Linked DNA regions of Homo sapiens: all the other regions are reported to be linked to region 1. Evidence: microRNA targets listed by miRTarBase, many of them from high-throughput screens and not tested one by one. Region 1 holds a microRNA gene; each other region holds the end of a gene's coding sequence.

The links. The annotated mature microRNA hsa-miR-574-5p reads UGAGUGUGUGUGUGUGAGUGUGU and lies in region 1 at 1,863-1,885, opposite strand. An mRNA with a match to its seed (bases 2 to 7 or 8) in the 3' UTR can be bound and repressed. Matches are read on the target gene's strand: a 7mer-m8 pairs with bases 2 to 8, a 7mer-A1 pairs with bases 2 to 7 and ends in A, and an 8mer does both.
Region 2: miRTarBase lists DNAJC6 as a target of hsa-miR-574-5p. The part of its 3' UTR that is shown has no 7-base or 8-base seed match.
Region 3: the mRNA of CLIC6 is a reported target of hsa-miR-574-5p. The part of its 3' UTR that is shown has no 7-base or 8-base seed match.
Region 4: the mRNA of SEC23IP is a reported target of hsa-miR-574-5p. The part of its 3' UTR that is shown has no 7-base or 8-base seed match.
Region 5: the mRNA of KCNK12 is a reported target of hsa-miR-574-5p. The part of its 3' UTR that is shown has no 7-base or 8-base seed match.
Region 6: the mRNA of EHD3 is a reported target of hsa-miR-574-5p. The part of its 3' UTR that is shown has no 7-base or 8-base seed match.

Annotation. Positions count from the first base shown.
Region 1 is chr4:38,864,852-38,869,940 of GRCh38, reverse strand. MIR574 (microRNA 574) reads right to left here and starts at 1,909; the gene lies at 1,814-1,909. It overlaps FAM114A1 (family with sequence similarity 114 member A1), which reads right to left and starts at 2,135. Exons shown (of 15, transcript NM_138389.4): 1 at 2,107-2,135; 2 at 1,395-1,543. It also overlaps a transcript of TLR6 not described here. RefSeq lists an enhancer at 1,001-1,584 and silencers at 1,792-1,841, 1,892-2,371.
Region 2 is chr1:65,412,497-65,417,585 of GRCh38, forward strand. DNAJC6 (DnaJ heat shock protein family (Hsp40) member C6) reads left to right here. Exons shown (of 19, transcript NM_001256864.2): 19 at 428-3,375. The coding sequence ends at 529. It also overlaps the pseudogene RNU2-15P. Among named protein-coding and RNA genes, the nearest start is that of LEPR, 5.6 kb to the right of the region's middle. RefSeq lists an enhancer at 50-344.
Region 3 is chr21:34,715,548-34,720,636 of GRCh38, reverse strand. It overlaps CLIC6 (chloride intracellular channel 6), which reads right to left. Exons shown (of 6, transcript NM_053277.3): 6 at 2,414-4,316. The coding sequence ends at 4,155. Among named protein-coding and RNA genes, the nearest start is that of LINC00160, 19 kb to the left of the region's middle.
Region 4 is chr10:119,932,746-119,937,834 of GRCh38, forward strand. SEC23IP (SEC23 interacting protein) reads left to right here. Exons shown (of 19, transcript NM_007190.4): 17 at 260-422; 18 at 941-1,042. The coding sequence ends at 1,022. Among named protein-coding and RNA genes, the nearest start is that of MIR4682, 23 kb to the right of the region's middle. RefSeq lists an enhancer at 1,322-1,491.
Region 5 is chr2:47,516,851-47,521,850 of GRCh38, reverse strand. It overlaps KCNK12 (potassium two pore domain channel subfamily K member 12), which reads left to right. Exons shown (of 2, transcript NM_022055.2): 2 at 43-5,000. The coding sequence ends at 944. It also overlaps a transcript of MSH2 not described here. Among named protein-coding and RNA genes, the nearest start is that of MSH2-OT1, 8.2 kb to the left of the region's middle. RefSeq lists a silencer at 643-912.
Region 6 is chr2:31,265,904-31,270,992 of GRCh38, forward strand. EHD3 (EH domain containing 3) reads left to right here. Exons shown (of 6, transcript NM_014600.3): 6 at 274-3,548. The coding sequence ends at 801. It overlaps LOC124905983 (a long non-coding RNA gene), which reads right to left and starts at 37. Exons shown (of 4, transcript XR_007086270.1): 1 at 1-37.

The DNA of each region.
Region 1 (5,089 bases):
TGCAAGTTTTTCATAAATCTAAATTTATTAAATGTAAAGGACTGCCTTCATCTTTCAAGTTTAGCCTTTGTGCTTTTTCTTGGTATTAAAATGTCTTTCATTTTATGAAATAGTGACAGTGGATGGATTTTTTTAAAAAAAATGGCCTGACTTGGCAGCATAAAAATTTGGTTAGCATGATATCCTGTGTGAGGTCATCTCCCCCAGTTAAAAAAAAAAAACAAAAACAGTGCCAGTCAGCGAAGGACCAGGAATAAAAACTCTGGATGAGAGGCTCTTAATCAGGTTGTAGCAGTTTGTATGAGTTTGTATAAAGCTTGACAAGTCTACGTACCCAGGCTCCAGCCTATTCTCTGTGAGGCTGCCAGGCATTTTTGGACCTATTTGCTCTCCTGTTCAAAAACCATTAGGTGTAAATATCTTCACACTTCCCATCATAATCCAGCTCCAATCTCTCTCCACCTCTTGCAACTCTCAGTATCCTCCACTCCTGCCTCACCAGTCTTTTCTCCATTCCCCATAACTCTTCACATCTCCCTGCCTTTGCTTACGCTGGTTCCTCTGCCCCGGTGCTGCCCTTCCTCCAGCTGCCTGGCAAACTCCTATTCCTCTAGACACCCAGTGTCTAATGTTACCTTTCATTCTGAATTTTTCCTTAATCTGCCCCACTGCTTCCAATGAAATAACTGCTACCTCTTCTATGTTTTTGGCACTTTGCACAGATTTCTATTCCATGTATTTATGGAGTATTTACTTCTGCCATTCTGTCCTCCAAGACTGTGACCAACAGCACCTAGGTTGGTTTCTGTCCCTCAGATATTTACTGAATTGAAATACATTGTGTTTGATATTAATAAAAGAGAAACCATGTTTGATGTAAGCCTGGTCAAATAAACAAAGACAAGTTTACTTTTATGGTCTGAATCGCTCAGATTCAAGAAAGCCCCCTCCAACCCTCAAATTCCTTCTGCACTGTCTCACTTGTGCCTCAAATCCATCCCTAACGTCTCATTCCTTCACTTAAAGGTTACAATGTAAGAAGTTTATCAGATTCTTTCCCAAGCTCAGGCTTGATGGAAGAAAGGAGGGCGGGGACGCAGGCCTATGGGTGGGGTAGGGAAGGAGCCACTAGGCTGCAGAGAGGGCAAAAAGAGGCTCTGAGGATAGAGCCTGTCTCATTCTCAGTTGTCACAGGTTGGCTGAGGTCACAGGGAGTTCAGAGCACACTGATTTAAGAAGCCACCTGCCTGTGTCCTTCAAGATGTTTAGGATGGGAAATGATGGGATCAGTAGGGCATAGGTAATGCTCTCACAGCCCATAGAGAGATGTCTTCCTACTTAAGAAAAGGCAGTGACGTTCAGGCGCCTGGTCTGAGGTGCCTGGAAATACTCACCGGATGGCAGAGGCGAGGGCTAGCCGACTGGGTGGAGGGGGCCTGGGGATCTGCGGTAGGGAGTGGGACCCATCCCGGGGGCTGCGAGTGGAGGCGGTGCCTGCTTAGAGTGTTGGCTGGACTGGAAGAGCAGGCAGGGCGTGGGTCGGCTGTTGGGGGAGGAGTAAGGCGAGGGGAGCGGGGAGGTCAAGGCCTGAGCTCCCTGTGCCAAGGCCGAGGGCAGGCGCACCCTGGGACGAGGCCTCTGTCTTACAGGGACCTGCTCCCTTCGTGCCCGGGCTGGGGGACCCTGCAGCCCACCTCTGACTTGGCCCCGAGCCATTGGGGGCACTTTTCCAGACTTGCTTGGTGCCAGGACTGGATACTTTGGGAGATCCAGGCAGGCTCCGCGGAGGTTCACGCAGGCCGAGGGGGCAGACCCTGAGTGTGGGCGTGTGGGTGTGTGCATGAGCGTGGACCCGGAGCGACACACACTCACACACACACACTCACACGCCCGCACCCACGCAGGTCCCTCGGCCGCGCCGCCCCAGACCCTCACCCCAGAGCCGGGTCCTCCCTGACCACTGCTTCTCACTAACGCAGAGGGCAGGATTCGTGGGTCCCGGACGAGGCGCCAAGGTATGGTGTTCCCACCACCCCCGGGCAGCCGCCCCCGCGCTCGCCCGCCCCCCGGGGAAGGGGATGGGGACCGAGTGCCCGGGGCTCTTACCGCTCAGGCGGCCGAGTACGCGCGGGAGTGCCCAGCGGGTCCCGCCCCGCCACGTCTGCAGGGCCGGCGGGGACGCGGCCGGAGGGCGGGCGGCTGGAGAGGGGGCCCCGCCCCGCCTGCGCCCCGCCCCACGAGGAGCGCCGCGGGGACGCCCGGCCACCCCCACGCTGCGAGGGCCGGGCCCGCGCTGGGCGAGTCTCCTGGAAACTTGGCTTGTCCCACCCCTGTGCCAGCGCGGAAAGCCAGAGCGCGCCGCCTCTCCAGCCCAGGGCGGGTGGGTCTCGGGGTTCGCCAGATCCCTTTCCTTTCCTTAAAAGGGCTTGGAAAACCCCCCGCCGTGTCACTGGGAAGAGGTCGCTCAAATTCAGCTAAAGTTTGATCTCCTGATTCTGCGTTAAGCAGCACTCCCTTGCCCTGTCGGTGGGAGTGTGATAGATTTAAAACAAACAAACCCCAAACAAACAACGAAAACCCACTTTCCAGAAGGCCAGTTTGGAGCTGTGGGTTAAAACTCCGATGTATTAGCTTTGGCCTAGGAATTCCACATTTGTGAATTTGTCCTAAGTAGGCAGTCAAATGGGCAAATATGTATGTACAAGGATGTTTGTTGTAGTTGTTTCTGCGGGGGGAAGCCGGAGACAATCTCAATGTCCCCCAGTAAGATTGGTGAAGTAAGCTACAGTAACTTCAGACATCGAATATGTTGTAGCCCTTAAAAATGAGGATTCGTTGACATGGAGGGAAGGCCACATATGAAGGCCTTCCTCAAATATGGCTTAATATGAACTCAGATGCGGAGGAAGCGCAGTGTTTATAGTATTAACTAGTTTTGTAAACAATTTTGTATTTTCTATAAAAGTCGGAGGAAATACAATTTAAAAATAGTGATTCTTTCTGAGCGATGTGTTTAAGGCAGATTTTCTCCTCTCTCACTCCATCCCTTCTTCTTTTTGAAGAATTATAAATTCAAAGTTAAAGAAAAAATAGCCCTAGTCTCTCCCTTTCAATATCACTACCATTTTTTATAGTGTGTGGATCCTACCATAGTTTTTCTAAGCTTATATAAATACATGTATGCATAAACAGCTTTTTGTTTGCTTTTTTATAAAAATGGCGAGATGTTGACGTATTTTGTAAATTTCCCCCTATTTATTATATATTATAATCATCTTTCTTGGTCAATACATATCAACCAAAACCACTCTTCTAAGACTTGTCTTATATATTGCAATATGTTTGTAATTATATTTCATTCAATCATTCTCCTATTGACAATTAGTTTGCTCCTTATATTCCAGTTTCTTCCATATATATATTAATTAATTTATTAATTCATTTTTTTGAGATGGAGTCTTGCTCTGTCGTCCAGGCTGGAAAGCAGTGGCGTGATCTCAGCTCACTGCAGCCTCTGCTTACTGGGTTCAAGCAATTCTCCTGCCTCAGCCTCTTGAGTAGCTGGGATTACAGGTGCGTGCCACCACACCCGGCTAATTTTTGTATTTTTTAGTAGAGACGGGGTTTCACCATGTTGGCCAGGCTGGTCTCGAACTCCTGACCTCAGGTGATCCACCCACCTCGGCCTCCCAAAGTGCTGGGATTACAGGCATGAGCCACCGTGCCTGGCTATATTTCTTATTTAATATTTTTATTAAATATTTTTATATTAATAATTTTTTAAGCTACTGAATATTTATTTTATTTTATTTTTTAGGAGGACAGAGTCTTGATCTGTGGCCTAGGCTGCAGTGCAGTGGCACCATCTCCATCTCCTGGGTTCAAGCGATTCTTCTGCCTCAGCCTCTTGAGTAGCTGGGATTACAGGTGCGTGCCACCACACCCGGCTAATTTTTGTGTTTTCAGTAGAGACAGGGTTTTGCCATGGTGGCAAGGCTGGTCTCGAACTCCTGACCTCAAGTGATCTGCCCACCTCGGCCTCCCAAAGTGTTGGGATTACAGGCGTGAGCCACCACACCCAGCCTGTCATTTTTAAATTCATAGAAAAACCAGAAAGTTATCTTAATGTGAGAGTGGGTGGAAACTGCTTTAAATTGAGATCAATAGCCTTTTTGAATTGAGCGAGACTTTGAACCTTAACTAACACGTGGCTTCTGTAACTCAGTTTTTCCACCTCTAAAATAAAGAGCATTGCTCGGCACAGTCCCTTCCAGTTCTGGCTTTGCGAGTGTTATCAAATTATGTTCCAGTTGCAACAGGTGTGTTTTGGTGTAGCATATACACAGACGTCTGTGCCTGGGACTTCTGCTCCTGCCCAGAGACAGCAAGCACCTTTGCTAACCTGCCTTCCCTTCCCTGCTGTGCCGTAACAGCCCAATCAGATGTTCTCTTTTTAAAGGGCTGAGTTCCTCTTCTCCTTTGACCCAAACCACACCTATCCAATAAAGAAAATAAAGCAAACTATCCTGGCAACAAGTTTGTTTTTTGTTTTGCCCACTGCAAATTTGTCCCTTTTACTCATGTAGCTGCTTCCAGGACTACCAGATTTTATTTCAGATATTTTATTTATTTGCAATGTAAAACATTTTAAGTTCATTTAAAAATTTTCTGGAGTATTTAAAATATATAGAAAAGTAAAGAATAATATGACAAATACTTATTTGTGTAAAAAATATAGGAAATACTATGATGATATCTAGATTTAACAAAATTTTTTGCAGTATTTATTTTAGAATTTTCTTTGCAAAGAAAAAAATGTTACGGATATGTTTGAAACCCTATCCCTTCCATTGTCCACCATCTCTGCAGGTAGCCATTTTCTTGAGGTGGTTGTATATCCCTCCCACCCATATTTCTTTCTTTCTTATTTAGGAATGAGGTCTTACTCTGTCACCTAGGCTGGAGTGCAGTGGTGTGATGACGGCTCAGTGCGGCCTCAGACTCCTGGGCTCCAGCAATCCTCCTGCCTCAGCCTCACAAGGAGCTAGGATCACAGGGTGCCACTGCACCCAGCAAATTTTTAAATTTT
Region 2 (5,089 bases), not on the chromosome of region 1:
TCAAAAGAGAAGGAGAAACAAGAGCCCAGAAAAATCCACAAACTGTATTCCCCATTATGACTCTCAAAGAACTTTTTAGAAATGGGAAAATGGGAGTTAAAAACAGTCAATAGAGATGGGCTGTCATGAACCTTTGTCATTTGGCAGATACGTCTGGAGAACAGAGATACGTCTTGTGCTGCCTGATAAGCTCTCTGTTGTCTACTTCTTGATGGATTACTACTACCCTTGTGCATTTCTAGGGGGAGGTCATTATGGGGAGGTTATAGTAATTTGGGTCAGATATAGTAGATTAGGCTGAAAAGGAGAAATGGCCAAATAGAAAAACATTTCCATTGCTTAGAGCCCATATATTGGCAGTGAAAAATTTAATATTAATGAAATTTTGGTCTGTGGTATCTAATGTGTGTTTTTGTTTTCTCTACAGGCTACTGGGCAACCCTATGAACAATACGCAAAGATGATTTTCATGGAGCTCAATGATGCCTGGTCTGAATTTGAAAACCAAGGCCAAAAGCCCTTATATTAATTTATGAGCTTTTCCATCTCTGCTGCAGACCTGTGCTAATGCTTAGTGTGTGTCACAATTCTGAGGTTTTCGCAGATGAACCAAAAACTCCAGTAACATGTTTTCAGTACTAAACCGTTAAGTTACTCATGAATTAATTTCTCATTGATAAGGAATGTGGATGTTTGGTTTCTCCAAAGTTCCCACCATAAAAGATCCAAAGCATGAGAGGAACTTCTAGTCAGATGACCTTGCAGAACCACCGCATTCCACCCTGCCCTTTGGGGAGCCTACTCAGCATTCTACCTGGGGAAATGGAAAACAGAGGCCACCACCCATGAAGGCATAACACCCATCACATTGTCTGAGAATAGGATTAATGAGCAAAAGTTATGATAATAGAGTTATATGATGGTTTAATGGTTTCTAGATTTTTCTTGGAAAGATATAATTTGAGCAGTGGCTTTATGCAGACTCCAAGAACAAAACCACCAGGTATTTTTTTTTAAGTAAAAATTTACTAAGGCCTTTAGCATAATACTGTAAATGTCTTTTGGTCAAGAGAACTAACAAATATAAAGGAACTTGAAATGTGGGGAGTGATAATAGTCCAGTGATTAAACTACAGTCCAGTGATTACCACCAACTTTCTGACTAAGCTAAAAATGAATGAAAATGGTGGCTAAAGAAAATAGGGACTCTGAAGATGTCGAAATCTTTATTCCTGGTTAGGAAGGTGGGCCGCTACCCTTCTTTCCCTTTAGAAAACTGTGATTAATTAAATAAAAAGTCTTACTACTATAACAACTCTAAACCTGGTTTAAATGAAACATCTAATTTTGCTGTAAGGCTTAATGCTCTTCTTTTGTTTAGCCAAGAAAACATTCTTAGTTGGAAACAGGTGGTAAAGTAGTTTGGCCTGTTCACAACTTATCAGGACCAATATCTAGTGTGGACTCAGTGTTCTCTAGGTTTGTGAGCAGTTGTGGTAAGAGAATGGAAGGCAACACTGAATAGGAGTTAAGGGAATGGCACGATCACAGTGAGAGAGCTGCACTCACCTGCAGACCCAGTCAGATGGCTTGTCAGTATCTGCTCTGAGGAACCAGGTCCCACCTCCCCACAAGGCAAATCTAGACCCATTAAATTATTACAGTGGGCTTTTTTGTTTTAAAAGTGGTTGGGGATCCACAGGAACGACATTCATACAGGGACATTTGTGAAAGCAAAGCAAGAATGAATGCTTTCCCGATCTCAGACTGGCTGGATTCAGATCAGTGTGTTGGCTGGTTCTCATTTTAAGGGGTAAGCAGTTTGCTATTCTGTGACTTTAGTAGATCTCTTTTGTGTGCACATATACAATGTGCATTATACATATATATTAAATATATCCACAAAGCAGATGGGCAAAAAGATTTTCATGCTAATCTTCAAAGGTTCATGCTCAATATTGTGAAAAGCTTTTAAAAGTTGTTTTGAAAAGACAATCATTTTTTGTTTTTGTTTTAACTTTCTTGTGGCAAGCTATACCGGAAAAGCGGCATGTCAAAAATACTTTAGGTTCTACATAGATCTCTTTCTCTCTTTTGTTTTGTTTGTTTGTTTGTTAAAGTTCATTATTTATTTTACCTTTTACTGACAATGTGAAACTCGAAGAAAATGTTCTCTTTTTAAATATACAGTCATAAACTGTTCAAGGTAACCATAACAAACTAGGTGTTATTTATTAACGTATTATAAAATAATGTTTGATCCAGTATGTGCTTGTCTTATTTAAAATTGGAATGTGAGACATGTTGCTGTGACCTGTTTTTCTTTCTCATTCACATTTGTAGATATTGTGTGAACTACAGTATATAATGATAACAATTAAAAGGATATTCTGTGGATGTCACGTATTTTGAAATGATAGAACTACATTAGCTTTGTATCATGTTTGGATAATTCATCAATGTTCACAGTTTAAAACATCATTAAACATTATGTAATTACAATGAGAAAGAATCTTACTTAAATTTGGAGATTTTCCCCCACATCTCTTTTCCGGATACATTATAATTCTGGACCCCTATTTATCTCAAAACTCTTAATATATGCAGACCAACAGGTCTTTGCATTCCTTTTAAATAACTGGTTGTGACAAAGCTTGTTGTTGATCAGATTCACTGTTTCATCATATTTATTGTAATATATTTTTTGTTTTGTAAATATGTTACAACAAAATGTGATTGGTCTAAAATATTTGTAATGTATATTAAAAGGTTCAAAAATATTTGTATAAATCTAAGTTATTTGGGTACTTGTAGGAATACAATGAGGAGCTTGAATGCCACCTTCTGACATGATTTACTTTTAAGGAAAGTTATGAGGAGAGAATACAAAAAGCATGCACCAAAATGTAATCTGACAGGATTTCTGGATTTATACGTAATCACTCCTGCCCCAACACACACACACACACACACACACACACACACACACATGCACGCACACATGATTTTGATTATGCTACATGATATATGTTTCAAAAAGAATTAGCATAGAAATCCTGGTCTCCTAGCCAAAAAAATCAAAGGATTTTCAAAAAAACGAATCTGTATGTTGAGGCAAAAGGATTGAACCTGGAAGTCTGGGACTTTATCATAGAAACAAAGTCTCAGATATTTTAGTTCTTTGGAAACAAATGCTGTAATTCAAAAGCATTTGACCTGTCACTGTACTATCTACATGTGGAAGAATGTTCAAGTTGAATCCTAATGCCGTGAATGAAACACAGTCTGTGTAGGGAATGAGCAAAAAAGTTGAATTCCAATTGCTTTTTGGCCTTTTGGCTAAAATAAATGTAGCATCTAATTTTATCAGTTTAACATCTGATATGTCTTCTATCCATGTACAATATTTTAAATGGATTTTGTGGAGCAGGGAGATGGAATAGGAGTTTCCCCCACCCATTCCACACATCAGCCTGGTAATGCAGTAACTGCAGGAATAGTTCACCTCCGCCTCACTAAAACAACAACAACAACAACAAAAGACAAAATTTGAATTCCAGAAATAGTTATTGCAGCAACAAGTCAGTCTCCCTGCTGGAAACACCTATCAGGGAAGCTGGCTCAAGTAGCAGATTTTGATTATTCTAAAGATAAATCATGGTTTTTGGGAATAGTGATACATGTTGGTTTGAGATTAAAAGACTGGGTTTAAATCCTAGTTTTTCCATTTATAGACTTTTTTTTTTTTTTAAGAGAGTCTTGCTCTGTCACCTAGGCTGAAATGCAGTGGGTCTGTCACAGCTCTCTGCAACCCCTAACTCCTGAGCTCAAGTGATCCTCTCTCCTCAGCCCTCTTGAGTAGCTAGGACTGCAGGTGAGAGCCACCATGCCTGGTTTTTTTTTTTTTTTTCAGACGGGGTCTTGCTGTGTTGCCCAGGATGGTCTTGAACTCCTGGCCTCAAGTGATCCTCCAGCCTCAGCCTCCCAAAGTGCTGGGATTACAGGCATGAGCCACTGTGCCAAGCCTTACAGACTCTTATATTGGACAAGTTTCTTGAACTGAGTCTTAATTTTATCACCTGTAAAATAGAATTCTAACAACCCTGCAATGGAGGAATTAAGAACTGTGTATATAAACTCTTAACAAGCGGGTACTCACTAAATAGTAATTATTGTTATTGTTACTGATAGTAAATAAGACAAAGTATATCACTGTAGGTGGGTATTGGAGCTGGAATTACATGGAAACCTCATATTCTAGGGAGTGACACAAGTAGGAAAAGGCAACCCAAAGTTACTTTTACCTTGGTCCTTATTCCTTATCTCCTTGGGTTTACAGAGATCTGTCTACATAAAATGGCAAAGAGGTTTGCATTGTAGTTTCTGTAAAGGGAATAGCTATGTAAAAAGAAGTAGTGATTGAGCATTAGGAAGGAAAACCAACATTTACGGATTTCAATTAGTGTTGCATCATTCTTGCATTTAACTTATGCACTGACTTGCAAGCCTACCCCAGTGTAGATATAACATCCTGGCATTTATCTTGTGTGCACTGCCCTAGGTGTTACCATATATATATATATATGTTTTATATATATTTTTTTCTCACTTAATTCCCCCAAAGATTCTGAGACAGGTTTTTGTAAATCTTACCTCAGGAAGCTAAAGCATGGAGAAATTTACCCAGAGCTGGAGCTTGAGGCTATATATTTTTTTTTTTCTGAGGATAGGGAGAGATGATACTGTGTATGGTAAACTTATTAATATTTGTTAATTCAGCCAACATTTTGTGTATACTGTATGCAAGATGCTAATAGATATGCTGGAGAAAATTAAGACAGTGAATGGATTTGATGCCCTGTGAAGCATAAGAGGTTACTGTTATTTCTAATTACTACAAGAATTCTTGCTTCTTGGTGCATAAGATCTACTGTGGGGAATAGTACAAGTGCTGACCATCTGACTTTAGAGCTGAACAGTTTGGGACTTGATCTCAGCTTCCCTATTCACTGGTTACTGGGAGCTTGTTTTCCTATCTGTAAGATAGAGGCAATAAAACCTAGCTTATCATGCGAGACTATTGAATGCA
Region 3 (5,089 bases), not on the chromosome of region 1:
GTGAAGGGAAATTGGCCACAGGATAATTGAGACTTACACCCATATATGGAAAGAGAAGTCATTTTGTCATGTGAATAGCATCCCCCAATGCATCCATTTCATGTATGTAGGGCTTTGTTAATTATGTGTGCTTAGAATGAAGGACATCTTGGTTCTCTTAACTGTAAAATAAAAGAAGGGTTGAGATTTTCTTGTAAAAAAAAAATTTTTTTAATGCCTGCTGGACATGGTGGCTCATGCCTGTAATCCCAGCACTTTGGGAGGCCACAGCGCATGGATTGCTTGAGCTCAGGAGTTTGAGACCAGCCTGGGCAACATGGTGAGACCCTGTCTCTACTAAAAATGCAAAAAAAAAAAAAAAAATAGCTAGGCGTGGTGGTGTGTGTCTGTGGTCCCAGCTACTCAGGAGTCTGAGGTGGGAGGATTGCTTGAGCCTGTGGTGGTGGGTACTGGGGATGGGGTGCAGAGATGCAGTGAGCCGAAATCACGCCACTGCACTCCAGTCTGGGCGACAGAGTGAGACCCAGTCTCAAAAAAAATTAAAATGTAAAAAAAAAAGCCATTAATCTAAAATTTTCCAAAGCCTAATTATGAACCACTGGAAGGGGGAACTTCAGGGCAGGGTGGGTTGTGCTAAGAGTGAGTTACTGCTTACGACTGGGGGAGGGTGAGAGGGGAAGGAGTTCATCCTGCATGCGGGGTGGGGGTGGAGGGTGTGCATGAATGTCTGTCTGTGGGAGTGTGCTTATGAGTATGTGAGAGTGTGTGACAATGGTGTCACAAATTGGTGTATACACGTATGTGTGTCTAGTGTGTGTGTGTGTCTGTCTGTCCGCCTATCTTGGGGGTGAAGGGCTTGAACATATAATCAATTCTTAGAGATAGACTTATAGAATGGAAATGATTGAGACCTCTGGTCTCTGGAAGTCCTCTTCTGGGCGGATTCTGTCATTGCATTTCCGTATGCTGCAGTATCCACAAAGTAGAACCTTGTGATGCTCTCATGTTCCCTTCCAGCCTGCTTTAGGACATTCTGTGTTCTTAAGGAAAGTTTGGAGGCCGGGCGTGGTGGCTCACACCTGTAATCCCAGCACTTTGGGAGGCGAGGCAAGTGGATCGCCTGAGCTCAGGAGTTTGAGACCAGCCTTGGCAGCACGGTGAAACCCCATCTCTACTAAAAACAAAAAAATTAGCCTGATGTGGTGCCCTGTAATCCCAGCTACTTGGGAGGCTGAGGCAGGAAAATCGCTTGAACCTGGGAGGCAGAGGTTGCAGTGAGCCAAGATCGAGCTACTGCACTCCAGCTTGGGCGACAAAGCGAGACTCCATCTCAATTAAATAAAAAAAAAGGTAAAGTTTGGGTTTTTATGAACTAATTTTCAAGCCTCTCGGGCAACTAGAATTGAGAATGGAATCCTCTCCGTCCAGAAAAACTTCCACACAGCCTGAAAAGAAGAATTTGTTCATTATTCGTCCATGTTTACATTTTGTATGGTATCTCTTGAAGAACAAATGCATTTTGTTTTTTAAAACACACTGTAATGAAGATTTTGGTCCAGCAGAACAGCTCTGGAATATTTCTTACCTCCTTACACACATGTAGGTTTTTAGGAGAATCAAGAGGTGTGGGCTGGGGGCGGAGCTGAAGGCAGAGTTGGGACAGGGCTGGGGAAGACCACCCAGAACCAGCTCCTTTCCTACAACTCCACGTAAAAGTAGAACAAGAACACCCAGCAGGGTGTCGATGCCAGTCACCTGGACAAGGACTGTTCATGGGTGTCTTTGGAGGCCTCTTTAAGGTTCCTTTAAAATGTCTTTGTGATTCACAACTGAAGTATGGATTGTCTCTAATTCAAATGCCCATAATCTCAGGTTCAAACTTGCTCTCACCATTATTTTATTTTATTTTATTTTATTTTATTTTATTTTATTTTATTTTATTTTATTTTGTTTTTCATTTCATTTCATTTCATTTCATTTCATTTCATTTCATTTCATTTCATTTTGAGACAGGGTCTCACTCTGTTGCCCAGGCTAGAGTGCAGTGGTGTGATCTCAGGTCACTGCAACCTCCACCTCCCAGGCTCGAGGTATCCTCCCACCTCAGCCTCCCTAGTAGCTAGGACTACAGGTGCCCACCACCATGCCTAGCTAATTTTTGTATTTTTAGTAGAGATGGGGTTTCACCAGGTTGGCCAGGCTGGTCTTGAACTCCTGACCTCAGGTGATCTGCCTGTCTCGGCCTCCCAAAGTGCTGGGATTACAGACATGAGCCACTATGCCGGTATGCCAGGCCTGTCCTCACCATTTTAAAAGAAGCCCATACCATTCATTTTATTTCTTGAAACCTAAATGGAGAATGGGGAATGCAAAAAATAATAAAAAATAAAAAATAAAACCCAAAAGAAATTGGTTCCATTTAAACATTTTTATAATTTGTTTCATTTTCAAGGCACAAAGAGTTTATGTCAATCATTTTAATGTCTAAGAATACAAAGTTAGCACTAGTAACATCTGGTAGTCTAATCATTTATCATGCTTAAATGTAACATTACAAAACTACATTTTAAAATCTGCCCCCTAACCAGATGTGAAACAACGTGGACAAGGGTGACATGTGCTAGACCCAATCTCCAAAAACGTATGGTTGACAAAGACAGCTGACTGCTGGGGTAAAACTGCAGCAGTCATAATCGAAGAGCGAAAGAGGCCACTCTATTAAAGACTTTGTTTCTTTTGCTAGACATTTTTCACCTAATCCCAGGATAGTTTCTGTTAATGCATCTTACTCTCTTTCAAACGAATCGTCCCTAGAGCAGGTGTACACATTAAAAATGAGCTTTATAGCATCAAACACATACCACAACCAACTCTACAAGGAGGGTTTTCTGTAAGATGTGTACGACTGTCCGAAGAACACATTCTGGCTGATAAGTCTCAGCTCCTGTGAGGTCCTGATGAGTATCTAAACAACCTCACATTTTCTCTTCCACGCCTAGGGTTAAGGCCAGCACTCAGCCCACACACAAAGCTGTGATGAGAGGTTGGTTAGGGATGGTGGAGGCAAAGCCACAGATCAGCCAGAAACTCTTTTGAGTCAATAGTTTCTACTCCCTCCCTAACTGGACCGTTTACCAGAACTGCCCAGGACTTGTCACCATGAATTTAATCTCCCTGGATTTTCCCTGCTTGATGTCTAGATGAGACAATGAAGGGCAGAGAAGTATTGCTATCCCCACACGATACCACCAGCACTGAGGGACTGCAGCCTTGGGTCTCAGAGAGAGCCGCCCGGAGAAGGAACCAAAGTGTGCTTGGTTCACATTTCAGGGCAGGGAGGTTCTCCAAGTTGCAGCAGATATTAAGAGTCCTGCTGAAGGCACAGTCTCTAAGAGAGGGGAGGGAGCAAAGACAGGAAGCTGGAACCAGAGACACGGATAAGCACCCTCCCCCTTGCCTTTCCTGGAAGCAGAGGCAGTGGCATCCTGGAGGCAGAAATGAGGCAGAGTGGGGGTGACCCAGGGCTTCCGGTTCCTGCTGGTCATTGCGTGCGCATCTGTGGGCTTCACAATTCCCCACTCCTTAAAATCTAACCTCAAGCATCTTCTCTGGCACTGCGGTGCCCAATATTTTTGTATGGTGTAAGTCCTCTGTGTATGATCATCCAGGAATCACCAAGAGGTCCCCTCACCAGTGCTTTAAAATAAAATAATGCAATACCATATATGAATGAAATTGTGTGTGTGTGTGTGTGTGTGTGTGTGTGTGTGTGTGATAGAGAGAGAGAGAGAGAGAGAGAGAGAGAACAAGATACTGAAGATTTGGAACATGTTCTCCAGTAAGTTTTCGGTAATTAAGTGGAGTAAAATTGAAGGCGATTGTTAAAATGTCCTTCTTTACACCCTCTGATATTGCTTTAAAATATCAAGATAGGTGTGTCTCATTTTGTAATTACAAAGCAGTATTTTCATTTTGAAGAAAATTAAACTAATGTTTTAGAGAAGAAAAACAGGCTCTCAATGATTTAAAAAACTCTCAGAGACCAGTTTTTTAAAAATTGAAGGAATTGAACCCAAACCTAATTTGTTTTCAAACACACTGTTTTCGTATCCTTGCTCACTCAACTGAGAAATAAGACAGAAAACAGCCCAGCTTCATTTCATTCTTTTTGCAACATCTGAATATGCGTGTTCAATCTCTTGATCAGCTGGACACGTATTTGTGAACTCATCTCTAGCATAAGCATTATTCAAGTATCTCCAGATGCCAGTCATTTCAGAAGGAAATTCAAAATCTCTGTACTTCTTGGCCACAATCTGAAAATGAAGAGAAAATGATCAGTAAAGGGAAAACTTGCTAAGGTAGGCTCCCAAGTCAGACAGTCCATTCTTCTGAGGCATGCAATACATTCTTTCCCAGTTTCCCATGTCATCCCACAGTCATCCGGGCTACCCACCACGGCATCTTGACTTGCATAGGGCCATCTTGGGTGTGAGGAGGGCTATGAAGTTCCTGTACTCACTACAGTGACTGCACATAGTTCTGCCCACCAGTTTGTCACAGATGGGTCTTGGAATCCGCTGGCACGAGTATGCTCTGGACTCTGGTGGATTTCTCTTTGTGTTGCCTGTTACTTTCTTTCCATATGTTGTGCTACTGTGTTACTTGGTGCTATGTGAATAAAGACGCATGGTGGATCTGCTGTTTAAATGGTGCCCTCTCTTCTTCCTACTTGCTGAACCTCACTTCTCCAGTCCCAAACATCTGTGCATGTTAATCCTCCTGAATGCCATCATGCTGCCACTAAGAGCATCGTCTGATCGTGGGGCCCGCCTGTGCGGAGGAGAGATTCATGAACAAAGCAGATGCAAATCCCTACCCTCATGGGGATGGTGGGTGTAAGGAAGAAGCAGTCGAGAGACAGCACCAAGAGAAACACAGCAGTGTGAGATACTTCCTCTAGCAAGAGGGGTACAGTTGGGGAATTAGTCACAAAGATGTGCAGAACACTGGGGACTGTACCAGTTTGCTAGGGTTGCCATAATAAAGTAACACATGCTGGGAGGCTTAGAACAACAGAAGTTTACTG
Region 4 (5,089 bases), not on the chromosome of region 1:
TCCTGTTTCCTTTCTTTCTACAATGCTTTCTCACCCCTTATCTTCACAACTTCTCTCAGCTTGTTGGCTCTTTTCTCCTCTCTCTCGGGTAACCAGCCCCTCTTCCCCTGGCTCTTTGGAGGAACGGGGAGTGAGCCTGGTAGCTCCTCAGGTTGCTACATGCGTCAAGCAGTATTCTCATTGAGCCCAGAAAGTCAGCTAAAGTCAAAGGATAAAGATTAAGTGATTGACTTTGATATTGAAATGGTTTAAATTCTAGCAGAAAAGGTTGTTGAAAGTCCAGATTTTTCCAAGGATGAGGACTACTTAGGAAAGGTTGGAATGTTAAATGGAGGCCGCCGAATTGACTACGTTCTCCAAGAAAAACCAATAGAGAGTTTTAATGAATACCTTTTCGCTCTTCAGAGTCACTTATGCTATTGGTAAGTGTTCTTAAATTTGGTAACATTTGAGTGGGCTTTTGGTGCTAGCACGTGCAGCAATTTTAGTTTTAGTGAGATTCTTTTACTGATACAATGTACTATGAATATTCATTTGAATTACTATATGTTCAGAATCGTTATTTTTCCCCCTTAGTTACCCACAAGATGGCAGTATGTCATCTGCTTTTGACCAAAGACCCTTGGTTCTTGCACACTGTTTTTGTGGGAATGCCTTTCACAGTGGGAGTGGTAGGGACTTTGAAATGCCATTCTTTCCTGTATCCCTGTCACCAAGGAGAATTGCAACACAGCTATTTTGGAGCTAATCAGTATTCATCTAGTTTTTAAGGACAGCTCTGAGATTACGCTGCTTTATTTATTACACTGAGATTACATTGCTATCATTTGCCCTTCTTAGATAGAGTTGAATAGAATAGAACCTGCATTTTCAACCATTGTGCATAGAAGTTAATTTCTTCTAATTGTCTCTTAAGTAAATATGCTTTTCCTTTTCATAGGGAATCTGAAGATACTGCTCTGTTACTACTTAAAGAAATTTATCGAACAATGAACATTAGTCCAGAACAGCCCCAGCATTGATCAAACTTCAGTTTTACTGTGTGAGTTTATCCTTATTGAATGTATAAATTCTGAATGTTTGCATTCTCAAATCTGTTGTATGGAGTTGATGTTGACTGATTTTGCTTTTTTCTGTTTCCTCTGAGTTTTTGTCGTCGTTTTTAAAAATTTGCAATAGAGACATTAAGGAAGATAATTGGTTTGTAATTTACATTTCTGATTTATTACAGTCTTCTTTCTAAATTTACATAGAATTTGAGTTATTTTTAGTTTCTTTTTAAAATAGATTCCCAAGAATATCAGTTAGGAATTCCTTTGGTTGCAGGTTCACAGAACCCAGTTTACAATACATTAAACAAATAGAGGTTTATTTTTCTTCCGTAACAAGAAGGGTTCTTCTGTTGAGTGACTCCACCAGATACCCAGAGTGCTTGCCTCTTCCCACCTGAATGTTGGCTCTTGCTGCCTCATAGTTATAAGGTGCCCCCATGGTTGCAGATACCATATCTACATTCACAACATGAATAAGAGGGGAGAGGGTAGTACTCCTCACATCTGTCGCTCTTAATTAGGGAAGCAGAAGCTTGTCCAAAAATTTACTCATACCTATTGACTAGGCCTGTGTCTAATGTCCAATATCTCCAGTCTGTATGAAAGATTGTAGAAGTAATGTTTTGAGCATTCCCAATCTTTATAGAGGGAAAGAATAGAGAAGGAGGTTAAGTCTGTGATGGGTCAGCTGACGTGCAGCTCAGCCACACTCTGTATTCCTAACTGTCCTCCTGAGACACCAGATACCTGGTTTTCCTCACTAGATTATGCATTACTTTTAAAAACAAGTAATGTGTTTTTTACAAAGTTAGAAATTTTAAAGGCTTTGAAAGAATCAGACACAAAATGCTGAGCTCTAAATTACTGAAATCAAAGGAAGTTCCTGCCATTTTTGGTTTTCTAATAGTAAGTGGTAAATGAACATTCCCTTCAGCCTCATCTTCTACCTCCTCGTTTTAGAGAGGTAAGTACTTTTAGTAGGGCTTCCTTAGAGAAAGTTTTTTGGCTCCATTTCCAAAATTAAACTTGTAACAAAGTAAAAGAAAACTAAAGTGTAGGCCAGGCATGGTGTCTCACACCTCTAATCTCATCACTTTGGGAGGCCAAGGCGGGCAGATCACCTGAGGTTAGGAGTTCGAGACCAGCCTGGCCAACATAGTGAAACCCCGTCTGTACTAAAAATACAAAAATTAGTCGGGTGTGGTGGCGGGTGCCTGTAGTTGGGAAATGCAAGGCCAGAAGTGAAAGATGGCTTTCCCATAACTCATCCCCAACCTCCCTGCCTAGAGGCAGCCAGTGTTCCACGTTTTGTGTATCCTTCCAGATATCTGTTAACACATCACACACACTTTTAAGTTTTTCTTTTTTAAAAGACAAAAGAGGCTGGGTGTAGTGGCTCACGCCTGTAATCCCAGCACTTTGGGAGGCCGAGGCAGGTGGATTACTTGAGGTTAGGAGTTCAAGACTAGCCTGGCTAACATGGTGAAACCCTGTCTCTACTAAAAATACAAAAATTAGCCGGGCATGGTAGTAGGTGCCTGTAATCCCAGCAACTCAGGAGGCTGAGGCAGGAGAATCTCTTGAACCCAGGAGTTGGAGGTTGCAGTGAGCTGAGATTGCGCCACTGCACTCCGGCCTGGATGACAGAGTGAGACTCTATCTAAAAAAAAAAAGACAAATGATAGCAAAATTGACACACCGTTATTACCTTTGTGTCTTTGAGATTGTCCCATATCTATCTATCCATCCATTCATCCATCTGTCCGCCCATCCGTCCATTCATCCATCCGTCCAGTATCTGTTGAGCACCTTACTTAAGTGCCAGGTATTATTTTAGGTATTGGGTTTCACAGCAGTGGACCAAAGCCTCTGCCCTCAAGGACCTTTTTTCCTCTAATGGAAGGCAGACAGCACGTGGACAGTTGAAATGAACCACATGGTAAAGACTGAGCAGCTGGACAAGGAGGAGAGGAATTCATTTGGGATGGGTTCAAGTTATTAATGTATATAAGATGGCAAGGGACCCCCTTCACGGGTAAAGTAAAGTGTCATTTGAGCAAGCGAGCCAGGTGGATATCTGGAGGAAGAAGACCACTTCAGGTGGAGAGAAGAATCTGGATCAGAACATGAGAGTGACCTCGTTCTTTTTAGGTATTCCATTGACTATTGCACCATAATCTGTTTAAGCAGTCCCTACTGATGGGCATTGAAGTTATTCTAATCTTTTATTAGTATGAACAGTACTACAGTGATACGTGATATTTTAATAGTTGCATTTCATTCCATTTTATAGTTCTTTTATTAAAATACTTTATTTTACCCCATTGTTGGGTGTTAGATGATTTTCCAAATTTTCTCCATTATAAATAACTCTGATATGTAGTTTTACACACTTTTTGCCAATCTCTGTTTGCTTTGGATACATTCTTAGAAGCAGTGTTCTTATTTCTGAGAATATTGCATATTTTGAAAAGATTTTTGGCTGGGTGCGGTGGCTCATGCCTGTAATCCCAGTTTGAGAGGCCGAGGCGGGCAGATCACTTGAGGTCAGGAGTTCGAGACCAGCCTGGCCAACATAGTGAAACCCCGTCTCTACTAAAAATACAGAAAAATTAGCAGGGTGTGATCTCACCTACTTGGGAGGCCGAGGCAGGAGGATCTCTTAAAACCTGGGAGGTGGAGGTTGCAGTGAGCTGAGATTCCACCACTGCACTCCAGCCTGGGCAACAGCATGCGATTCCGTCTCAAAAAAAAAAAAAAAAAAAAAGCTTTTTGATCCCTACATTTTGCTAAATTGCATTCCAGAAAAGTTGCTCAATTTTCATATTTACCATCAGTATGTAAAGGCCAGTATGCTTGCACTCTTGGAAACACTGGGTATTACTGATTAAAAAATTTTTTTTTGCTAATTTGATAGCCAGAAATAGTTATAATACCGTTTTTACTTACATTTCTATTATTAGTGAAGTTGAGCTCTTTGGGTGTATCTTAACTGGCTGATTATATTTCTTTTGTCAGTTGCCTGTTCATGACCTTTGTGTTTTCTTGGAGGTACGGGGTAGGGTCCTTTTCTTTCTTTATTTTATTTTATTTTATTTTATTTTTTTTAAGACGGAGTCTTGCTTTGTCGCCCAGGCTGTAGTGCAGTGGCGTGATCTCGGCTCACTGCAAGCTCCTCCTCCCGGGTTCATGCCATTCTCTTGCCTTAGCCTCCCGAGTAGCTGGGACTACAGGCGCCCGCTGCTGTGCCCAGCTAATTTTTTGTATTTTTAGTAGAGACGGGGTTTCACTGTGGTCTCGATCTCCTGACCTCGTGATCCGCCCGCCTTGGCCTCCCAAAGTGCTGGGATTACAGGCGTGAGCCACCGTGCCCGGCCAGGGTCCTTTTCTTTCTTATGGATTTATAAATATGATACTTAAGGATATTAACCTTTGTCATTATAAGTATTTTTTCCCAGTTTGAAATTAGCCTTTTATTTTTCCTTATACTTTGGATTTTTTTGGCGGCAGTTTGAGGGGAGCATGTTTTAAAAATACGTAGCCCTACGCTGGGCATGATGGCTCACGCCTGTAATCCCAGCACTTTGGCAGGCCGAGGTGGACGGATCACCTGAGGTCAGGAGGTTGAGACCAGCCTGGCCAACATGGAGAAACCCCATCTCTATTAAAAATACAGAAATTAGATGGGTGTGGTGGCTGGCACCTATAATCCCAGCTACTTGGGATGCTGAGGCAGGAGAATTGCTTGAACCCAGGAGGCGGAGGTTGCAGTGACCCTAGATTGTGCCACTGCACTCCCACCTGGATGACAGAGCGAGACTCCGTCTAAAAAAAAAAAACAAAAAAACAAAAAACATAGCCCAGTCTTTTATGATTAATTATTTTTTAGATATTTACATTTATTTTCTTTTTAGTTCTTTTTTTCCCCATTTGGCTTTGTAATTTAGAAGAGTAAGGTGTAGAGAACAATTTAACTTTTTTCTTACATAATCGTTTCTGTCTGTGCCATATATTGAATAATGTACCCTTTTGTCATT
Region 5 (5,000 bases), not on the chromosome of region 1:
CTGCGCGGCCAGGACCGCGCTGACCCTGCCCTGTCTCCACAGGTTTCGGCATGACCACCCCCGCGACGGTGGGCGGGAAGGCCTTCCTCATCGCCTACGGGCTGTTCGGCTGCGCTGGGACCATCCTGTTCTTCAACCTCTTCCTGGAGCGCATCATCTCGCTGCTGGCCTTCATCATGCGCGCCTGCCGGGAGCGCCAGCTGCGCCGCAGCGGCCTGCTGCCCGCCACCTTCCGCCGCGGCTCCGCGCTCTCGGAGGCCGACAGCCTGGCGGGCTGGAAGCCCTCGGTGTACCACGTGCTGCTCATCCTGGGCCTGTTCGCCGTGCTGCTGTCCTGCTGCGCCTCGGCCATGTACACCAGCGTGGAGGGCTGGGACTACGTGGACTCGCTCTACTTCTGCTTCGTCACCTTCAGCACCATCGGCTTCGGGGACCTGGTGAGCAGCCAGCACGCCGCCTACCGGAACCAGGGGCTCTACCGCCTGGGCAACTTCCTCTTCATCCTGCTCGGCGTGTGCTGCATTTACTCGCTCTTCAACGTCATCTCCATCCTCATCAAGCAGGTGCTCAACTGGATGCTGCGCAAGCTGAGCTGCCGCTGCTGCGCGCGCTGCTGCCCGGCTCCTGGCGCGCCCCTGGCCCGGCGCAATGCCATCACCCCAGGCTCCCGGCTGCGCCGCCGCCTGGCCGCGCTCGGTGCCGACCCCGCGGCCCGCGACAGCGACGCCGAGGGCCGCCGCCTCTCGGGCGAGCTCATCTCCATGCGCGACCTCACGGCCTCCAACAAGGTGTCGCTGGCGCTGCTGCAGAAGCAGCTGTCGGAGACGGCCAACGGCTACCCGCGCAGCGTGTGCGTCAACACGCGCCAGAACGGCTTCTCGGGCGGCGTGGGCGCGCTGGGCATCATGAACAACCGGCTGGCCGAGACCAGCGCCTCCAGGTAGACCGCCCGTCCGCCCGCGCCGGGGACCCTCTCCAGGCCGCGGGGCCGCCGGGCGTGGTTTGCTTCTCTCAGTCACTGCTGGCGCTTTCTTAATCTTTATCCAATAAAATGAAACAAAAAAAATTTTTTTAAAGAAATACTATTTGGCCAGGCCTGATGTTATCAAGGGCAGGTTTTGGGGACGCCTGTGTTCCTTGTGAGTCCCCTCTTGGAGAACCGTGGCCCCCAGCAGATTCTCCTTCAGGGAGAGAAAACGTGGCCCCCCAGGCCCACACCCAGGGCATACCGCAGCGAGGAGGGTTTTGCAGACTGGCACTAAACCCCGTCCCCATGCACAGAAGCAGCCGGCAACCCCAAAGCATATGGTGCAACTTTTCGTGGCTCTGAATTACCTCCTCAGCATTTAGAATCCTGGCCCAGCCTAGCAGCTTCCTTCTGGTCGTCAGAAGTGATATAGTCACAGTTTTGACAGGTGGGGGTTGGGACAGCCATATGTTGCCTCCCGATGTATATATATAGAACAGCCACTACACACAGAGAATGGTGTAGTATTATGCAATGAGATGAAACATAGCACCAACTTGCGGACTGTGGCATTTCCCCCAGATTTGGAAATTGCAGTGGTGAGGGGCTTAGCTGGCCTTTCTCAGCTCAGAGTTAGTCCATTTAGCACAGAGCACAGGGCAGCTACTTCTAATGGTGGGCGGTCCAGGGCACCTGTGAGGAGGGGAGCGGTGAGGCTGCAGGAGCCCTGCTGGGCTTTTAGCTGGCTGATCTCCAGGCTCGGATCGGCAGATCTTGAATCCCCCAACCGTCCTTTCTTTCACAAGCTCATCCACAGCAGTGCTTTTCAATATTAACCAGGAATATCTGAGTCTTCTCAGACAAGATATTTATTTGTTGGTGTGGATTTTTTTTTTCTTAACTACTGTTGATCAGTTCAACTTTTCCCCCTTTAAGAGATCATGGGGTTGCCGGGCGCAGCCCTCCAGCTTCTCCTCCTCCTCCTCTGAAGGAGGCACCTCTGCCAGCTGCGTCCTTGGGAACCAGGGCCTGCAGCACCAGGAACCCAAAAGAAGCCATCTTGCAAATGTCAGGGTATTTGGCTCCAGAGGCCATGATGTGTTTGGGGTCAGGAAAGATAGAATCCCTTTCTAAATATTGTTTATCAAGAGGATTTGTCTTCTCCATGCACAGCCTATTGGAGGCAGAGGAAGGCAGGAGGGAGGTAGCTGGTGAAACTGGTGGATGGAAGTAATGTTAGGATTACAGTTTTGCTCTCGGGCTGAGGGACAGATTCTCCCAGACTTGCCTTCTGCAGCATAGGGGGTCCCTGACCTGGAGGAAGGCCAGATACCCAGGCTTCATTGAAAGGATAGTGGTCTGGGGGTGTAAACGAACACTCTCTCTGCCCATTTTTCTCATATATGATGAGGGCAAGGACAGGTGCCAGAGTTTATACAGGCACGGCGTGACCCACCAGTATGCACAGCTTCTGATAGGAAGTCTTAGAAAAGCACCGCCTCACCGCCTCCAGCTGGAGCCATGCTGTGAAATCTCTCTCCCTGGCAAATGTGCGTGGAACACACACACACACAAACATGCACGCATGCGCTCACGCACCCAGCATTAGAGTCAAACTTGAATGTCAAACTCTTCTTTCCCCTTCTAGTTCATGGCAGGAAGGGAAAGCTTACCTGAGATCTCAGTGACTCTCCAGCTATTTTGGGTAATTTCTGATTTGAGTTGGGATTGGTTTTTAAACACAGGCCCTAATCTGGGGTGAAGCCAGTGAAGCAGCGCTGGCCAGGAGAGACGTCAGTCTTGCTAAATCCTGAAGGTGGGTTCCTGTGAAAACCATGCTTTCAGGATTCACTGTGACTGTCAGGCCAGCCCAGTGAGTGCCCCCCATCCAACCCATGGTTGCGGTCACAGTGAAGGGATTGCCCACGCAGGGGCGCACGTGTTCTCTAGGGCAGGGCCCTCTGACAGGACCTGGAAATAAAATCCACATTTATCCCTTTAAAAAAGGGAACGATTAAAAGGCATCCAATTAGAGGTGTTACCTAGGCAACAGGAAATAACTTGGGGATCAGAGCCATCCAGAGAGGGAAGAAGAGATCCCCATGATAGAGGCATCTAGACAGTGAGGACTTGATCTGCGGGCAAAATAACAGCCTACCCACAGGAAGTGAGCCCCAGCAACAGTACAGCAGCCTAAAACCCAGGCATCAAGACTGTGTGAGCTAGACAGGTCTAAAGAAACCTCCAGGCAATCCCCCGCCCAGCGTGCAGGACTACACAGAATCGTGGTCTCCATGGGAGGAACCAGGACCCACCTCCAGAGAAGAAAAACTCAAAATGTTTCTTGGCAGTCTTCTCTGTTGGCGGTGCTTCCTAGACTCTATCCTAAGTTGCTTATGCTGCAGCCTCAGCTGTTTTTACTTGTTTTCCTATGCTTTGGTTTTGGAAAGAGGCAATTGGAGGCAGCTTGAGCAATCTTCTAAAGGAATGGTAAGCATGGTTTCAAGGGGCAGGAAAATGAGACCCTTCCTCTTCCCACCTCCCAACTTCCCAGAGAAACGCCAGTCCTCCAAGGTACAATGGCAGCTCAGGATCCAGTGGCACATGTGTATTTTTGCCTATGTTCCCCTGTCCCCATCCCCCAATCCAGTCTCAGTCACACTGCCATGATACATCACACCATCATCCTTCATCTCAGGCCAAAGGGCTCAGCGCCCCAGACGACAGGGACTGCTTCCCTGAAGCAGGGATGTGGTTCTCCCATCATTTCAGGAACAGTGACATTGATAGGGATGCCTTTCTTTGGTGCAGGTTCTTCTGAACCTCAGGCCAAGAAAGAGCTCCATTCCCTCAGATGCTGTGGCCTCTCTCACTGTCTTGGGGGTCTCCAGTTTGCACACCACTGGTAGCTCACTGTAGCCTACAATTTCCTCATGCTCCAGGATTTGCTTCCTAACCTTAGGCCTGGACTTACCCATCATGCCGGTGCTGTGGGGCTCCCTTAAAGTTTGAATGAACTCCAAGAGGCCCTCACCATATGACTGTGGCCACAGAGAATCCAGAGTCTTGGCTAGCAGCCTTCTCAGAGCTGAGGAGAAAGGTAAAGAAGCCACCCTGGGTGTCCTAGCTTGCTAAAGCCAGGTGGTCAGGCCTTTGTGTCCTCTGAATGAAGCAGTGCCTCCAGGCCTGGAGAAGGCATCAGAAGGCTTAGGCAATCTCAGGCTCTCATTTTGTGGAAAATGCCAGACAGCCCTGGGCATTTGCACAGCATCATGCATATATGTATATATATATACACACACACATACACACCAGCCTTACAAAGAGCTACTAACCCTTTTCCCCAAGGAAAAGTCTCAGTCTGGGCCACTTTAAGAAGAAAGATTTCCCATTTTTAACTCTCTAGAGATGTACCAGGGCCTGGAAAATCCCTCTCTGCCTTGGGGGAGTTTTATGTACAATTTGCATGTATTCAGGTTTCACACAGAAGCCAGCATCCAAACCCAAGCCAAACCCTGGAAAATAGCTGCTAAATTGACCCAGGATCCTCCGTCCTTCAGACAGGCCTCCCAGCAGACCCCCTCTTCCTGTGGACTCTGGGGTGAGGGATGACTGAGCCCTCATGGCCAAAGGAGAAGCTTCTGGGGAACTGAGGCAGACGGCAGCCCAGTCAGGCAGAGACCATAGGAGCGACGGGCCCTGTGGTTCGATCTTACTGTAACTTTTTACATTCTTAAAAAACAAAAAGCACAATTCCACATACACACTGTCTGGAAAGCACAGCCAGACAGCCAGCCTAGGGCATCTGAGTCCAGAAGAGGCGCTGGGGCTTTATCTGTTGCAGGGTTCTTGTATTGTTGTATAATGTGCTGGTGGTGACTCAAGGCTCCTCACTTTGTAGGGTGGAGAGGGAGGGAGGGAGGGCCTGCTGAGGCCATTCCTGACCCCCAGGGTGGGCTCATCAGCATGGACTTGGGGCCTGGACTCTTGCCCCTGAAGCAGCTCTGGCACTTTCAGGCACCCCAGAGCACAA
Region 6 (5,089 bases), not on the chromosome of region 1:
TACTTGTTAAATTTCCCTTTCTTCCCCAGCCCCTACAACCCTTCTACCCCCTACTGAAAAATCCCATCATCAGCCCAGTGGGCCTTTATTCCCCTCCTCTCTCATACCTTCGATTACCACGTGATGTCCATCAGCTGAGCCTCTAGGTCACAGGTCTTTCATTGTAGAAAGGGATCAGCTGTGAACATTCTGGTGCTCATAGGAGGCACGTGATAAATGGAGGGCTCTCCTTTCATCGTATCCTATCTTCATCCTCTCTCCTCCTCTTCCCAGGACCAGCTGCAGGCCCAGGACTTTAGCAAGTTCCAGCCGCTGAAGAGCAAGCTGCTGGAGGTAGTGGACGACATGCTGGCCCATGACATTGCCCAGCTCATGGTGCTAGTGCGCCAGGAGGAGTCACAGCGGCCCATCCAGATGGTGAAGGGCGGAGCGTTCGAGGGCACCCTGCACGGCCCCTTTGGGCATGGCTATGGGGAGGGGGCTGGAGAAGGTATCGATGATGCTGAGTGGGTGGTGGCCAGGGACAAGCCCATGTACGACGAGATCTTCTACACCCTGTCACCGGTGGATGGCAAGATCACAGGCGCTAATGCCAAGAAGGAGATGGTGCGCTCCAAGCTGCCCAACAGTGTGCTGGGCAAGATCTGGAAGCTGGCCGACATTGACAAGGATGGCATGCTGGACGACGACGAGTTTGCACTGGCCAACCACCTCATCAAAGTCAAGCTGGAGGGGCACGAGCTGCCCAACGAGCTGCCTGCCCACCTCCTGCCCCCGTCCAAGAGGAAAGTTGCCGAGTGATGGGGTGGGGGGACATTCAGACGGGCAGTGTTAGAGGAGGAGATGGGAGCGGTGACTACACACACACACACACACACACACACACACACAAACATGCACACACACATATGCATATCTTGACATTGCTCTGTAGGTGAGAGAGGACCATGACGCCCATGTTTGCAGCTGATACTTGTTTGGGCACACCTCCAAGTTCTCGGGATTAGAAGGACAAGAGCACTCCCAGGCCCCAGAGTCTAAGCCTAAGTCTCTATCGCTCTTCCCCTCTCCTCGGCCACTCCCCAGATACCAGACCTGAGGCAATTCACTTGCCAGCACAGATGGCCAACCCACCTCCAGATTCCCCAGTGCTTCCACACCCGGGCTCTGAGCAAATGGAAAAGACTTTTCATTTAGTAGACAATTCACTTCTTTTTCTGTGCTTCCCCTATCTGCTTTGGCTTCCTAATAAGAAATCCATTCAAGAGCTAGGAGATCTGAGGGCAGGCGGGCAGCTGCAGGGAGGAGAGGTGAGAAAGGAAGCGTCTTCTAGAGACATTGGCCCAGGAGCTCTGTTCTTTCCTAATCTAAGCCTCTGTCTTCTTCGGCAAACCTTGCTTTGAACTCTGCCAGTATTTCATTTTAAAGAATCCCAGAGCGGGAGAGAGAAGAGAAAAAAATTGATAAGAGTGAGGAAATTGTCCTGTAGTCTATTGAAAACCAGTCAAGGTGGTTTTAGTTCATAGATTTTGTTAGATGTTCTTTCCACCTGGCCTATGATGTTTAGATGTTCATACTTGACTCACATTTACCCAGCCCCTCCTGCGTACCAGGAGCTGTGTTAGGCACTTTATATACATTATTCTATGTGGCCCTCACTGATGCCCCAGGGAAGTATGCATTAGCCTTCCCATTTTGCAGTTGAGGAGGCTGAGTAGCCTCAGAAGGGTTTAGGCGACCTTCTGAAACTCACAGAAGTCACGTGATGGAGAGAGGATTCAAAGCCAGGGCCTCAGACCCTCACACACTTGTCTGTGCTATGATGTATGCAGGATCCCAGCATTGATACCCAATGACAAACTATGGAGAACAAGCAAAGTATGCAGGCCCCCTGCAGCCTCCCAGGACAGGCTGGCAAGGGAGGAGGGCCGGCCAGCATTTGGTGGCCCATCAGTCTGGCCATCTGTCACGTCACAGAAGCAAACCGTGCCTTCTGGCTCTGCGCCCCATATTCCCAGCATCATAGACATCCAACAGCACCAGCAGGAGAGTGGGCTAGCCTGCTGGATGCTGTTCGTGCCTGTCCCTGCTCTGCCTCCCACCCAGTTGCCTGAATCATCCCAGCTCAGATGCAGCCACTGTCTCTTGTCAAGTGGGACCTCATACTATTCTCAGAAGGCTAACTTGAGAGGTTTGGGGCCTTGTTCCCCAGAGGGTCCCCAGGGACTCTGCAGTGTCCTTGGCAAATCCCCACTGTACTCAATGCCCTACATTCTCTTCTGTGGTCTCTCCCCTGGCTTGCTTCATGGCCACTGAACCAATCACTTTGTATGCTATGCTCCTACTGTGATGGAAAACAAAATGAGTATAACTTATTTTATATCCATATTCAGACTATATAGAGAATATTCTATGCATCTATGACGTGCTTACTACTGCAGTGCATTTGTCATTAGTCTTCATGTTAATACAGTACATTTATTCTTTGGTACCTGCCTGGCCACAGAGCATCATTCAATGGAGGCTGAGGGAGAAGGGCTGGGTTCTTACTTGGAGTTCCTGGTGAAATCTTTGGCTGGAAAGGGCTCACTGGGGCCACCCAATGGCCAGCATCCACAACCAGCTTCCCAGTGGGCTGGAGTTTGTCTAGGCTCAGTGACCAACCCAGGCACAGCTGGTGGAGCCACCGCTCCCTGCTCCTCTGGAGTGAAGATGTTCCCTAAGCCCCTGGGCTTCCTTCTGCAAATACACATTTCTCTTTCACATGAAATGAAGGGCAGACAAAGGCCAGGCAAAGAGGTCTCACCTGCTCTGGAGAAAACCCTTGAGTGCCGAGTGCAGGTTAGGGACCATTTCTCAACTCCACACCTTTCTTCAAGCTGAAGGAGAAATGGGAAGGAAATAGCAGAGGTAGGTGAAGTTCCTGTCTTTTTATTTTATAGGAAAGGGAGATGTCTGTTATCCCCTTTCTTCACTGCCACTGGACACACATGCCACTTTCCTGCCCTTCTACATATGCTGCCTCTCTTCCCTCTCTCCATCTTGAAGTCTCCACCCAGGAGAGACCTGTGAGGTGTGGGAATTCCATGTTTGCACAGCTCCCATCTCCCTGGAAAGAGGAACTGATGTTTGAGGGGACAGATGTGGGTCACTTTCCCTGGCAGTGCCCTCTAGCCTTGCTGCCTTGGCTTTCTGACCCCTTCCAGGCTTCAGGGGCCTGGGAGATCTCATGCCTCAGCCCAGGAAACATTTAATAGGGAAAGCAGAGACATGTCATGTCAGCCCCACAGACAAGAATTTCTAGAGCACTTGTCCTGTTGTTCCTTGCCCCGACATTACTCAGTCTGGGCCATGGAATCCATCCAATAAACACAGCAACACCCTATGCTACTGACCAAGCAAAGCTTGCCCCTGGTACCAAAGAGCTAAATCATGACCAAAGTGTGACATGAATGTAACTGAAATGCGGGTTAGTTGCTCAATGTATGCAAAGTCCCACGGACAAGAGTAAAGTCTGATACCAATAAAGTGAATGTATTCCAAAGCTAGCTTGGAGGAGGGGCACACAACGTCCTGCCTTTCAATGTGCCGCTTCCCCTTTGGAGCAGAAAGCAGGCACTTTTATAAGGTAAGGGAGCAAGTGAGCAAGGGTCCGCCTGATAGCATGGTGCCTTATCTACTGGACAGTTGAGTCGGGCCTTCCTGGGCAAAAATAAATTTTAAAAGTGGCCAAGTAGGCATACTTTAGATATAACCTCCTAGTGAATGAAAGTCCTGAGGCAGCCCCTGGAGGGTGGGAGTTCCAAGGCAACCCCTGGAGGTGAAAGCTCAAGGAGGGCATGTTTTGGTCTGCAAATTGGCAGTCAATTCTGGAGGACTATTTTGGAGCAGAGAGATGAACTTGCCCTGTAGGGAATGTCTAGTGAAGGGGAGATGAAAGCTTATATTTGCATTTCCCTTTTTTTGAGACAGTCTCACTCTGTCGCACAGGCTGGAGTGTAGTGGCATGATCCCAGCTCACTGCCACCTCTGCCTCCCAGGTTCAAGCCATTCTTGTGCCTCAGCCTCCCAAGTAGCTGGGACTACAGGTACTCCACCACCACGCCTGGCTAATTTTTTTTTTTTTTTTTTACTTTTAGTGAAAACAGGGTTTCACCATGTTGGCCAGGCTGGTCTTGAATTTCTGACCTCAAGTGATCTGTCCACCTCAGCCTCCCAAAGTGCTGGGATTACAGGCATAGGCGAGAGCCACTGCGCCAGGCCTATATTTGCATTTCTAAAGGGCTACCTAGGAAGTTGGGAATCCAGGAAATGGAAAAAAGAAGAGAGGAAGAAAAAAACAGCTCTTAGAAAACTGGGGTGCTCATTTACATGAATATTTCCAGATGACACCACTGAACCATAGCAGGGCATGGGCCTTGGTTTGCAGAGTGATGAGTGGTTGCCCTGAGTCATCCCCACTTCCATTTGGTTCCAAAACCTGTATTTATGAGTTAACTCATCAGAATCTGCTGAATGACCTGAAGAGAATAGGCTTGTTTATTCTTCCTATGTGATGCTGTCTGGAGTCTATACATCCTCAATCCTTTATTTAATTTCTCCATCCATTCATCCATCGATCTTTTTTATATTCAAAAGATGCTGAGCACCTCTTACAGAAAACATCCTGAGGGAGAATATAGAGATTCATTCCTTGAGTCATTCAAAAACACTCAATATAAAGTCTACCTGAGTGTAGAGACAATTCTATATGGATCAAAGAGCTCACAGCCTAGTAGAGGGGATGAGGCACTTATGCAAACACTGATAATACGGTGAGGGAACATGAAAGGGGGATGCTCAAGAAAGTCAGAAATGGCTTCAAACTGGGGAGGAGGTGGTCAGAGAAAGCCTGTAGCAGGATGGGCACTGGAACTGAGAAACCGTCTGGGGCCAACCTCTTGGGCCTGTTTTCTTCCTTCCTGATCTAAGGAAGACAGGCAGAATTTTTACATAAAACACAACACAGAGCATTCTCAGCCCACTAAATCATGACAGACTGAGAACCACTGAAGTATTTGTGGAAAAGCATGATTAGAATTTTGCCTCT